Linked DNA regions of Homo sapiens. The protein of the gene in region 1 interacts with the protein of each later gene in a biochemical or structural test. Each region holds a gene or a part of one and is shown in the gene's direction. Other genes may lie near its edges. The genes, in order: CDH2, LRRC7 and GNA12.

Region 1 (3,750 bases):
AAGGTTCATCATCAGATTCTTAAATGATCGGTATCTTGAAACTCAAATAAAGTTAATATTTCAGTCACCCAAAGCAGAAAAGCAAGCAATAAAGGCAGAAAATATTCATTAACTGCAATGAAGTTCACCGATCTCCCAAGTGTTGAAAAGCTTACATAAAACGGATATTTCTATTTACTTGTAAACCTTTCTTAAAAAAGGTTCCGGAAAATTTATTACCTCACCAGAATTAGAAAAAACAAAAACTGCTCCCCATCCCCCGCTCCATTCCACAAATGCTTGTGACTCAAACTTGTAAAGTCTCTCACTGTGTTGCACTTGAAGTTCATGCCTTAAAGGAAGCCAGCAGAAATCCTTTACGTGGTGAGAATTCTGTATCAGTCATTTTATCTTTTATATAATCCTATTTTCTCAAGTTCCGGCTTTTAGTTTCTCTCTTTTTTAAAAATTGTTGTTAGGGGTGGTAGGAGAGGGTAAAAGTACCCTGAAACTGTTGGCCCCAAATGTGAACAGTACCACTAACAGGTAGTAATAGAAATAGAAAACGGGAGATTTCAAATAAAATAACAAACATGCACTCTCAAACTCCCAGAGGGGACAAAAGAAAACAAAACAAGAACACAAAAACTTGGGCTGTTCCAGTACATCCTCAAGGGTGGGAGCTGAAGGTGCGAGCTCCAGAGAGGAGCCGCGGCCTCCGCCCTCCCCCGCCCGCAGGTGGCTCCCGGCGAGCGCCTCAGACAACAATAGCTAGGATGAGCTTGGCCTGCGTCCTTAGTTTGCTGTGTCTGCCCCTGCCAGGAAAGATTACCCATCTCCAAAGAATGACAAAATAAAGAAGCGTACGTTAGGCTCCCAAGGAGACACCGCCCCCCCTTCCCCACCATTCTTCATCTCCATTAGATTCCCTACCGCGGACCAAAGATGAACCTGCTACCAATCAAGTTCCTGCCCAAGTTATTTTATTTCCCGCAGCCCCTCCACCTGCCGGGGCGGTGCTCGGCGCACTCTAGGCTTCCCTCCGGCGACCCCCCGCGGGCTGCAGCAAAATACGGGGCGCTTCGGCGGGGCGGGGGCGGGCGGCTGCCGCGGATCCGGCCGGCTACAGCCGCAGCTTGGTGGCCTCCGATTGGCCACGACGCGGGCGGGGAGGCTCGGCGGAGGAGGGAGGCGGGGGCGAGGGCGGCGGCGGCGGCGGGAGGAATAGGAGAGGGGAGCGGGCCGCGCAGCCAGGCAGCGCGTGGGGCGAGCGCGGGGAGAGCGGCGGCGGCTCGCCCAGGTCGCGCAGCGGAGGCCGAGCGGGGTGCGCGGTCGGCGACGGAGGGCGGCGCGCGCGAGTGAGCGGCGCAGGGCGAGGACCGGCGGGCGGGTGCCGGTGCGCGGGCAGCAGGGGCGGCTGCGGCAGCAGCTGCGCGGGACGGAGCCGCGGCGGGAGAGACCGCGCCGGCCCCTCGCCTCACCCCCTTGCGGCCGAGGCCGGAGAACAGTCTCCAACTCGCCGGGGGACCGGAAAGAGGAGCCGAGAAGCGCCCCTCGGCCCCCACGCAGCGGAGGCGCGGAGTGGCGGGACTGCTGCTCTTTGTGGGTGCAGCACGCACGACCCGGAGCGCCCTCCCCGCGGCGCTGTCCCCGGCGTCTTCGTCGCGCCGAGCGGCCCTGGAGCGGGGACCCGGAGGAAGCAAAACCACGAGCCCGAAACCTCGCGTGGCGGAGCTCTTGGGGAGCGCCATCCGCTCCACTTCCACCTCCACATCCTCCACCGGCCAAGGTCCCCGCCGCTGCATCCCTCGCGGCTTCCGCTGCGCTCCGGGCCGGAGCCGAGCCGCCTGCGCTGCCACAGCAGCCGCCTCCACACACTCGCAGACGCTCACACGCTCTCCCTCCCTGTTCCCCCGCCCCCTCCCCAGCTCCTTGATCTCTGGGTCTGTTTTATTACTCCTGGTGCGAGTCCCGCGGACTCCGCGGCCCGCTATTTGTCATCAGCTCGCTCTCCATTGGCGGGGAGCGGAGAGCAGCGAAGAAGGGGGTGGGGAGGGGAGGGGAAGGGAAGGGGGTGGAAACTGCCTGGAGCCGTTTCTCCGCGCCGCTGTTGGTGCTGCCGCTGCCTCCTCCTCCTCCGCCGCCGCCGCCGCCGCCGCCGCCTCCTCCGGCTCTTCGCTCGGCCCCTCTCCGCCTCCATGTGCCGGATAGCGGGAGCGCTGCGGACCCTGCTGCCGCTGCTGGCGGCCCTGCTTCAGGTACGCGGCGGTCCCCGCGGGCCGGGCCACGGGCGGGGTGGGGCGGGCGGCGCCGGGTCCCTTTGTTCCCCGCGCCGCTGCGGGGCCGGGCTGCGCACCCGGGAAGGGAGGTGCCACGCCGCGCCGCGCCGCGCCGCGCGGCCGGTAGCTGCGCAGGCATCGGGCTCCGTCCGGGCGCCGGGGCAGGGTTGCCGGGGCCAGTAGGTCTCTCGCGCCTTTCCTGGCGGGGCTCTAGGGGCTGGATTGCGGGTCCCCTCTGCTCCTTCTTCGGGGCCGAGCAAGCTCGCGGGGGGTGTCCCCAGGCAGCAGGAGGGTGAGGCAGGATAACTCCCAGGTTTTGCAGTTTTCTGTGCCTTTCGCCCCTCGCATAGTACTTTGCTCCAATTTTTTTGTTTATTTCTGCAGGGATGGGTCGCGAGTTTACAGTAGGAATTCTCACTCTGGTGTCTTAGTTACGGGACTTGCCTCCACCTTACCCCACCCTGCACCCGTGCGCCTCCCGGTGCTCAAGGGCTCTACTGTCCTATTGTCTTTATCCCAGTCTGGAGTTGCCTCCTTTTCTTCTTCTCTTGCCCTCACAATATTCTGTGTTCGTCCCACCTGGAAAGAAAATCTGGCCCTCTTGCCCGGAGGAGTCTCTGCCGGTCAGCGCCTGCCTGTAGAACGAGTCTGGCCTCTCACGCCTAGTATCTCCCCCGGGCGAGAAGTTCCGTTACGCGGCTGCTCCTTTCTCTGTCCGGCTGCCTGTGCCCTATATGCGCCCCGGGGGCGCCTTTGCCTGGAGCCTTCCGTACTTTTCATACCCTCGGGAGAGAGCCAGCGAGCCTTTTCATTTAATCTCTACTAAGAGGCTCCTCCGCGGCAGGAAGCACCTGCTCCAGTCCGGGCGCAGGTTCCCTCGCCACTGCACGCTGCGGGTTCCCAGCCCGGGGGCAGCCCAACTTTCCGCCGCCTCCAACCCGAGGATGCCCCCAGGCTCCTCCCGACCAGCCAGCCCAGGCCTGGAGGCCACTTCACACAGCCTCGGCCGGGACCCTCTAGCTGGGCGGGTGCAGTGCCCTGGTCCCAAGTCGGTCTCCGCCTGCCGTGGGGTCCCTCGAAGGTTGCGGGAAAGGGGCGTGCCCACCCTCGCCGCGGGGCAGGAAAATCCACGGAGGGTCCCCCTGCCTGTCGCCCTCGGGGCAAGGGGAGAGGTGCTCTACTGCCAGCTGGCAGCCCCGAAAAGTGCGGACGCAGCTCGGAAGTGCCTGCTCCGGGGGTGGAGACAGGTGGTGTGGATTACCCCGCTCCGTGGTCTTCACGGGTCAGGGCCTGGCGCGCTCCGGCCCGCCGGGGGGTGAGTGCTGCTGGGGCGGGGGCAGGGGCTGGACGGGGCTGGCCTCCGCAGTCTCTCGCGCTTTCTCCCGCAACCCCTAGACGGTCGTGGGCCGCCGCCGCGCGGAGCCCTGTCCATGGTGCGCCATGGTGCGGCACGCCTGTCCCTGCCCGGCTCCACGCTCTCCTCCCGGGTCGT
Region 2 (3,750 bases), on another chromosome or scaffold:
AGAAATTTCTTCTCTACTTATAATGATTATGGATAGAAATAACTAATTTTATTCAGATCTCTGGCCAGGAGTACTGGCACATGGACAAGCTTATAAAGATAATTACATGACACACAAATATCATTTGGGGATGTACTTTAAGCATAAGTCTTATTTTCTACTCTATTTTAGATAAGCTTCCAAAACAAAACTCTTCATCTTTATATCTTACATAAAAATAATGTTGATTTTTAGGAGCAACTATTTCTCTTTATGGATTGCAAGACACATGACTAGTAAAGCAGATCTGGTAACCAGCTAATTGAAATGAGCTAAGAGCAGTCAGATCCTAAGGAAGTTTCAATGAACTGGTTTAGTTGCTGTGTTCATTTATTGCATGAACACAATTTAAACATCTAGTCCAATGATCTCTGGACTCAAATTATTTCATGGTCTAAGTCAACCATAAATAGATACTTGCAAATAAGACCATTCTTTCTTTTCAAGTTGAGTTTCCCTAACCAATATCCCTAAATCCTTTTTCAATAATTAAATCTTCTCTTCTATGATCACATTATTCATTTAAAAAGGTTAAAAGAGCTTTTTGTCCTTTGCTATTTGAAACTTAGCATAGGCTCCTTAGCCCAAGCCAACACAAGCTGATATGAACATTTTCTATAGTTATGGAGTAACAATAATTCTTGGAAGAGTAAACTTATTTTAATCCAGCCATGGATTAAATCTACTCAATCCATGTGAATGAGGCCAACTTGTAAAAGAAACCATTTGTTTATGTATTTCTTATTTCCAGGGATAATTATAATAAATGACTTTAGTCTTTGACCTCCAAATGTAAGTGAATCATTTTGGAATATTTTAGGATATTTTTCTTTAAATTTTGTCTACAGAAGTAGGAAAAGAAAAGATTGTTTTAATATGTATTTTTATAAGTCAATAAAATTAACCTTTTGAATTGATAAAAGAAAAACCACCATGTTTACACATTTTATAAGAGACATCTTAAGTAAGGATTATGTTATATTCATGCAGCTTTACTTATATTTTCATTTTAATAGCTCTACATTATCAAAATATTTAACTTCAAAAGAATATAGGGAAAAAGTGAAAAGTATCTCATATTCACTGGTCATTTCTGAGATATGATCTCACAGATTGAATCCCTAATTTGTCCCAAGGTAGATTCAGTTAGGTAAGGTGTAGTGTTAAGGAATTAGCCTAGCTGAGTTTGCTTTTGTTTTTGTTTTTTTCTTTGAGAAAAGAAAGGTTGGTAATTGAAAAGTTTCCTCGAACTTAAATTAAGTCATCCTTTGGTTTTCCAGGCAGGAGTGTAATAAATGAGTTTTCAGAATCCCTTGTAACAAAGAAAGACATATATGATAAAGGACCTCCTTTGGAAAAGAATTTAGCCTTAACTAAGTACTTTTATTGCATTTTCATGTGATCTTTGCCATAATGTTGCAAAGAAGATATTATCATTAGCCAACATTTTATGTAAAAAAAAGATTCATAAGCCATTTCCCTGTTAATTTGACATATTTAAACTAACTGCAACAGACTAAATTTTCCACGTTTTCTACCAAAAAACAAGCTCCCCTCATTGACCCCACAATAAAAGGAAAAGGTTGCAATCTTAGATACCTTATTGCAAAGTCAATGTTATGTGGTAACTTTTATAAAAGAAATTTGTATAGAGTTTAGCAGTTACAAATAAGGATTCTATTTAGACAGGAACAGAATCCTGCACTAGCCACTGAGAAGTCTCTTAACACTTTGAGCAAGTCCCTTAAAACTCATTAGTAAAGTAAGGATGAGATTAGTAATACCATTGTGTTGTTGTAAGGATTGAAAAAGATAACGCTTTAAAATGCTTGGTCTAACTCTCTATATTATTATTATTGTCCTATGGGGACCCCATTTCCTACACTAGAAAATTTCCCGATCCTGAGTATTTTAGGAATACTGAATTTGAGTTAAGATTACAAAAGACCATGTAATAAATATCAAGGGAATTTTATTCTTTTCTCTTTCCTTCTTTCTCTTTCTTTTTTTCTTTCTTTCTTCTTTATTTCCGTATTTGTTTGTAGTATCTATCACCATTTTTGCATACTATATTAAATACTTTGTGTAAAATTGTTTTTTAAAAAAACAATAATACTTTGGAATCTAACTGTAGATTTCCAGTCAGACAGTGACAGCTTTAACCCTACACTGTGGGAAGAGCAGAGACAACAACGCATGACTGTTGCCTTTGAATTTGAAGACAAAAAAGAAGATGACGAAAATGCTGGGAAAGTTAAGGTGAACCTTTTAGCTTTTGTTTCCTCTTTCTTCTCCTTATCTTTTTGTTTGTCCGTTTTTCTTATTCAGATAGATTTTGGGACAAAGTCAGATACTTCTTCAAGTCTCATGGCGGTACCTTTCATTACAGCATGCTGGTAGTTCTGGAAGCATTGGTGTGCTTCAGAATGAGACTAATGTCCCAAATCTGAGTGAGCAAATTTGAAATGCCACTTCATCCAACAGAATAACTGCATGAGAGAGATTCAAGCTGAGGGAAAGTAGAAAAAAAAATCTGTGTGATAGACTTCATCTAAGAACCTTATTTCATTGTTGACATGCTACACACTACGATGATTTTTTTTAATCACTGAGCAAAGCGTCATGCAGACTGAATAAGGCCAAAATAAACATTTCTGGAAGGGCCAACAGATTAATATGTTACATTGGCATTAAAATCTCTGAAAAGTTCTGTGTCCTTGGGCTATTCAAGAAGAATTTATGAGTTTCCTTAAATATGAGAACAAATTTTAAGGAAGATTAGTGCCTAATGGCAGGTGATGTTCCTTAGGGAACATAACTTCAATTTTTTTTACCTCAAAGTATGTTTTAAAAGATCTTTTATAGGGACTACTAGGTCAAGTAACAAGATTGAATTTTAAAATATGTATTTCTCCATTACTTACATTTTTAATTATCATCAGAATTGATTTAGATTTTCTCAACATCACATTTTCATGTTGGCATGGCAACATCTTGAATCTCTCATTTACTTTTTATAACATTGTATGTGTACTTTTTCTATCATGGCTACTAACAGCTCTCACTCTTAGTGACTAATTACCTTTATAATTGCATATGTGTTCTATTAATAAAGCTAGATTGTGTGTTATGTTTGTCTCTGTCCTCTCCTTTCCACATTTTCTAAACTTTATTTCTTAAATCAGCACATGAGCACTTACTGGCAAGGCCTACCAATATCGTTACGGAGAACCCAAAATGGATTCCCAAATCCAAAATAACAATTTTGTTAAAGATTTGGGTTTTAAAAAAAATGTCTCTAGATAGTTGATTAGTGCTGTCTAACAACCAAAGAGACATCTTTTTGAACTTGTGAATTCCTAGAAAAAATAATGCTAAACTGAAAACATACCTTCAGAACATTTCAGTTCTTTTACGGATTTTGTATGTTAAATCCAGAACCAATGGATGATGCATTCTATACCGGACTTCTGATTCATCTTTATATTTCATTGAATTACCAAAAATTGCATGCTTCTTCCTGAAATTCTGTATTCAAAGAATGCAAGAAGAAAGTGCATTTAATATACTCTGGTATATGTGTCAATGAAAACGTAAAATATAGTAAATACTTACAGTTATTTAGAAGCCCTGTTTGTGTGTTATGTGTTCAAGTTTGTTTATAATCAGAGTAGGTTCATTATACTTTAGAGTGTTTTTTCTCTGTATTTA
Region 3 (3,750 bases), on another chromosome or scaffold:
GGCGTGAGCTACTGTGCCTGGCCTAACTGTTGAGTTTTGAATGTCCTTGTATATTCTAAATGAGTCCTTTGTCAGATATGGCAGATGTGTGGTTGGCAAATATTTTCTCCCAGTTCATAGCTTCTTTTCAGCCTCTTAAGAGGGTCTTTGGCGGAGCAAAATATTTTCGTTTTCATCAAGTTCAATTTATTGATAATTTTTCTCGTGTGAATCATGTATTTGGAGTCACATCTAAGAACTTTGAGCACACCCTACATCCTGAAGATATTCTCCTATGTTATATATAGTTCTACATTTTGATTTGATTTTGTATAAGCTGTGAGGTTTAGGTCAAGGTTCTTCCCCACCCCCTCCCCCGCTCCCCCCAATTTTCTTTACCTGTGGAAGTCCACTTCCTCCAACAGCGTTTGTTGAAAAGACCAGGCTTCCTCTTTTTAATTGCTTTTGCACTTTTACAAAAATTACCTAGCTGTATCAGGGGCTATCCCTGGGTTCTCTGTTATGTTCCATTGATCTGTGGGTCTGTCACCTCACCAATACCACACAGTCTTGATTATCATAGCTATATAATAAGTCTTAAAATCAGATAGACTGATTGTTCCCACTTTTCTTTTTCAAAGTTGCTTTAGCTAATTTAATGCTTTTTCATATAAATTTTCAAATAATCATATTTATATCTACAAAAGATCCTGCTGGGATTTTATGGAAATTGTGCTAAACCTGTTTATTAATTTAAGGATATTGGTACCGTGTTGAATCTTCTAATTCGTGACCGTGGTATATCTATTAGATTTTGAAAATTTCTTTCCTCAACATTTTGCAGTTTTCAGCACATAAGTCCTACACATATTTTGTTAGATTTATACCTGTTTCGTTTTTTTAGTGATAGTTAGTAGTAGTACATCTTTCATTTCACTTTCCACATGTTCATTGCTAGTATATAGAAAGACAATTGAATTTCGTGTGTTGACATTATATCCTGCAACTATTCTGGATTCATTTGTTTATTCTAGGAGTTTTTTTGGTAGATTACTTTGGGATTTTCAACATAGATCATCTTTTTATCTGCAAATGGGTTTAGTTGTGTGTTTTCTTTTTTTGTGTGTCTAATCTATTTGTTTTCCCCCCTGCTTTTCCTGAGCTGTGTGATCTTTTATTTCATTTTCCTACCTTGTCGCACTGGCTAGAACTTCCAGAACCATGTTGAATAGCAGTAGCAGAAGTAGGCATCTTTGTCTTTTCCTAGTGTTGGAGGGAAAGCATTCAGTCTTTCACATTAATTATGAGGTTAGCTGTATGTTTTTTTGTCAGTGTTCTTTATCAAGTTGAAGCATTTCTCTGTTCCTAGTTTGCAAAGGTTTTTTAAAATCATGAGTGGGTGGTAAGTATTTTTTTTATCCATACATTTGTCTTTCTAGCCAGACTCTGAGTTTCTGGGGGTCAGATACTGCTTCTTAAAGTTTGTTTCCCCCACAAACAAACACACTGAACAAATGTTTGTGGATTGGTAGAACTAGGCATGGTCTCCAACGGCAGACAGACAAGGTCCTGAGGGGAAAATCAGGGAGCATCTCTAACCAGACCGTCCTGGTCAGCTGGGTCTGGAGGAGACTTTCAACTACTCTTTGGTCATCATTACGTCTGACTCAGTGGTTCAAGGCAGAAGTGGAAGTTATAGGCACCAAATTGATGCTGCAGGAGAGAGATGAAGGAGGCAGAATGGATTCATCTGCTCTGCCCTGGGTGTCAGAAATGAAGATTTTTAGGATAAGTGCCAACTAAAAATCATTAAGTTGTACACTTCAAATTGATGAGTTATATGGTACATGGATTATAGCACAGTAAAACTGTTATTTAAAAAGGAAAAAAAAAAAAAGGCCGGATGCAGTGGCTCACACCTGTAATTCCTAGTGCTTTGGAAGGCTAAGGCCAGAGGATCAGTTGAGCTCAGGAGTTTGAGACTAGCCTGGGCAATATAGTGAGACCCTGACTCTACGAAAATCTTAAAATTAGCCGGGCGTAACGAGGCATGCCTGTGGTCCCAGCTCCTTGAGAGGCTACGGGCAAGGATCACTTGAGCCCAGAAGGTCGAGATTGCAGTGAGCCATGTTCATGCCACTGCACTCCAGCCTGGGTGACAGAGCAAGACCCAGTCTCCAAAAAAGGAACATAGATAAGTGCCTAGTGAGCAGGTGACCCTGGTTTTCTCTGTCCTGGAGGATGGGATGCTGCTCTCAGCTGGCCTGAGTCCCTCAGATTGCTCTGAGATGAGAAGGCTTTTCCAGATGGACAGATGTGTACTTGATAGCCTTCTCAGGGCCCTTGACCACTCTGTATACCCCCAGTGTAGACCATACCAGAGAGTATGCAGTGTGCCCCTCAGAAGAACACAGAAGTTCTCATAAACACTGCCTTGCTGATTTCGAAACATTAGTCTAAGGATGGTGGAACAGACCTCCTAACTGCTCAGGGGGTGCTGTTTTTGCTGAGAGAATATTTTCCAAAGGCTGGCTGCATTCCCTAATACTATGTTAGTTATTTCTTCATCCCTTTGACCCTGTTGATGAGGTAAGAAGGGGCAGAACAACATTAACTTTATCTTTAACAATGAGGAAACAAGCAAAAGAATGAAAAGTAGTTTCTCATCACAAACGATGGTGACGTTAAATCTAGAACATGATCCCCTGGCTCCCGTTTTGGTGGGCGGGCTACTTGGCTTGTCGTATTTTAGTCTTTTCCTGTCTCATGACTGCTGACTGCCTGGATTTGTATGTTTTCCCACCCGTTTTAAGCTGGAAGAAGCAGTTGTATCTTTTGGAATAGAGGAGCTGCCAGATTTCAGTGATGATGACAATAGTAGCGCTGGTAGTACTCTTGGCAGTACAGTCATCTCCCGTTATCCACAGCCAGCCGCCAACGGAAAATAGGCGCGGACGGTGATACCACATTTGAGAGACAGAAGGAGAGACCATATTTACTTAACTTTCATGACAGTATATTGTTATAATTGTTGTATTTTATTATTAGCTATTATTAATCTCTTACTGTGCCTAATTCATAAATTAAATTAAACTTTAAAAACAATACAGGTAGGGCTTGGTACCGTTCAGACATCCACTGAGGGTCTTGGAACTTATGCCACGGATAAGGGGTGGAGGCTACTATAGTTGTTGTTAAAACATTGTTTTTTTGGCGGGGAGGCTGAGGCGGGCGGATCAGCTGAGGTCAGGAGTTCGAGACCAGGCTGGACAACATGGTGGAACCCCCCTCTCTACTAAAAATACAAAAATTAGCAGTCCGTGGTGGTCTGTAATCTCAGCTAAAAATAAAAAATTAGCCGGGCCTGGTGGCAGGTACCTGTAATCCTAGCTACTTAGGAGGCTGAGGCAGGAGAATTGCTTGAACCTGGGAGGCGGAGGTTGCAGTGAGCCGAGATCACTCCATTGCACTCCAGGCCAGGGCAAAAAGAGTGAAACTCCATCTAAGAAAAAAAAAAAAAAAAAAGTTGTTTTTTTACTGATACACTTCATTTTCCAGTGAAATTTTCTGAAATTGTTGCCACCTCCTCCCCGCCCAGTTGTCTTTTTTCCAGTAGCTTTGCAAATGAATGATAGCAGAAAGCAGACTTCTTTCTGTGGTGCTTATGTACATCTGTTTTCTTTTTTTTCTTTTTTCTTTTCTTTTTTTTTTTTTGAAACAGGGTCTTGCTCTGTTGCCCAGCCTAGAATATAGTGCAGCAATCATAGATAA

What was found.
Region 2: the proteins of CDH2 (region 1) and LRRC7 form a complex in vitro, tested with the Homo sapiens proteins (one study listed by BioGRID).
Region 3: the proteins of CDH2 (region 1) and GNA12 form a complex in vitro, tested with the Homo sapiens proteins (one study listed by BioGRID).

What each region holds. Positions count from the first base shown.
Region 1 is NC_000018.10:28,175,450-28,179,199, reverse strand, and holds the start of CDH2 (cadherin-2 isoform 1 preproprotein), read left to right. Parts: upstream 1-2,069; 5' UTR 2,070-2,177; coding exon 2,178-2,237; intron 2,238-3,750. UniProt on the Homo sapiens protein: Calcium-dependent cell adhesion protein; preferentially mediates homotypic cell-cell adhesion by dimerization with a CDH2 chain from another cell. Cadherins may thus contribute to the sorting of heterogeneous cell types.
Region 2 is NC_000001.11:70,018,832-70,022,581, forward strand, and holds part of LRRC7 (leucine-rich repeat-containing protein 7), read left to right. Parts: intron 1-2,173; coding exon 2,174-2,298; intron 2,299-3,750.
Region 3 is NC_000007.14:2,795,571-2,799,320, reverse strand, and holds part of GNA12 (guanine nucleotide-binding protein subunit alpha-12), read left to right. Parts: intron 1-3,750. UniProt on the Homo sapiens protein: Guanine nucleotide-binding proteins (G proteins) are involved as modulators or transducers in various transmembrane signaling systems. Activates effector molecule RhoA by binding and activating RhoGEFs (ARHGEF12/LARG).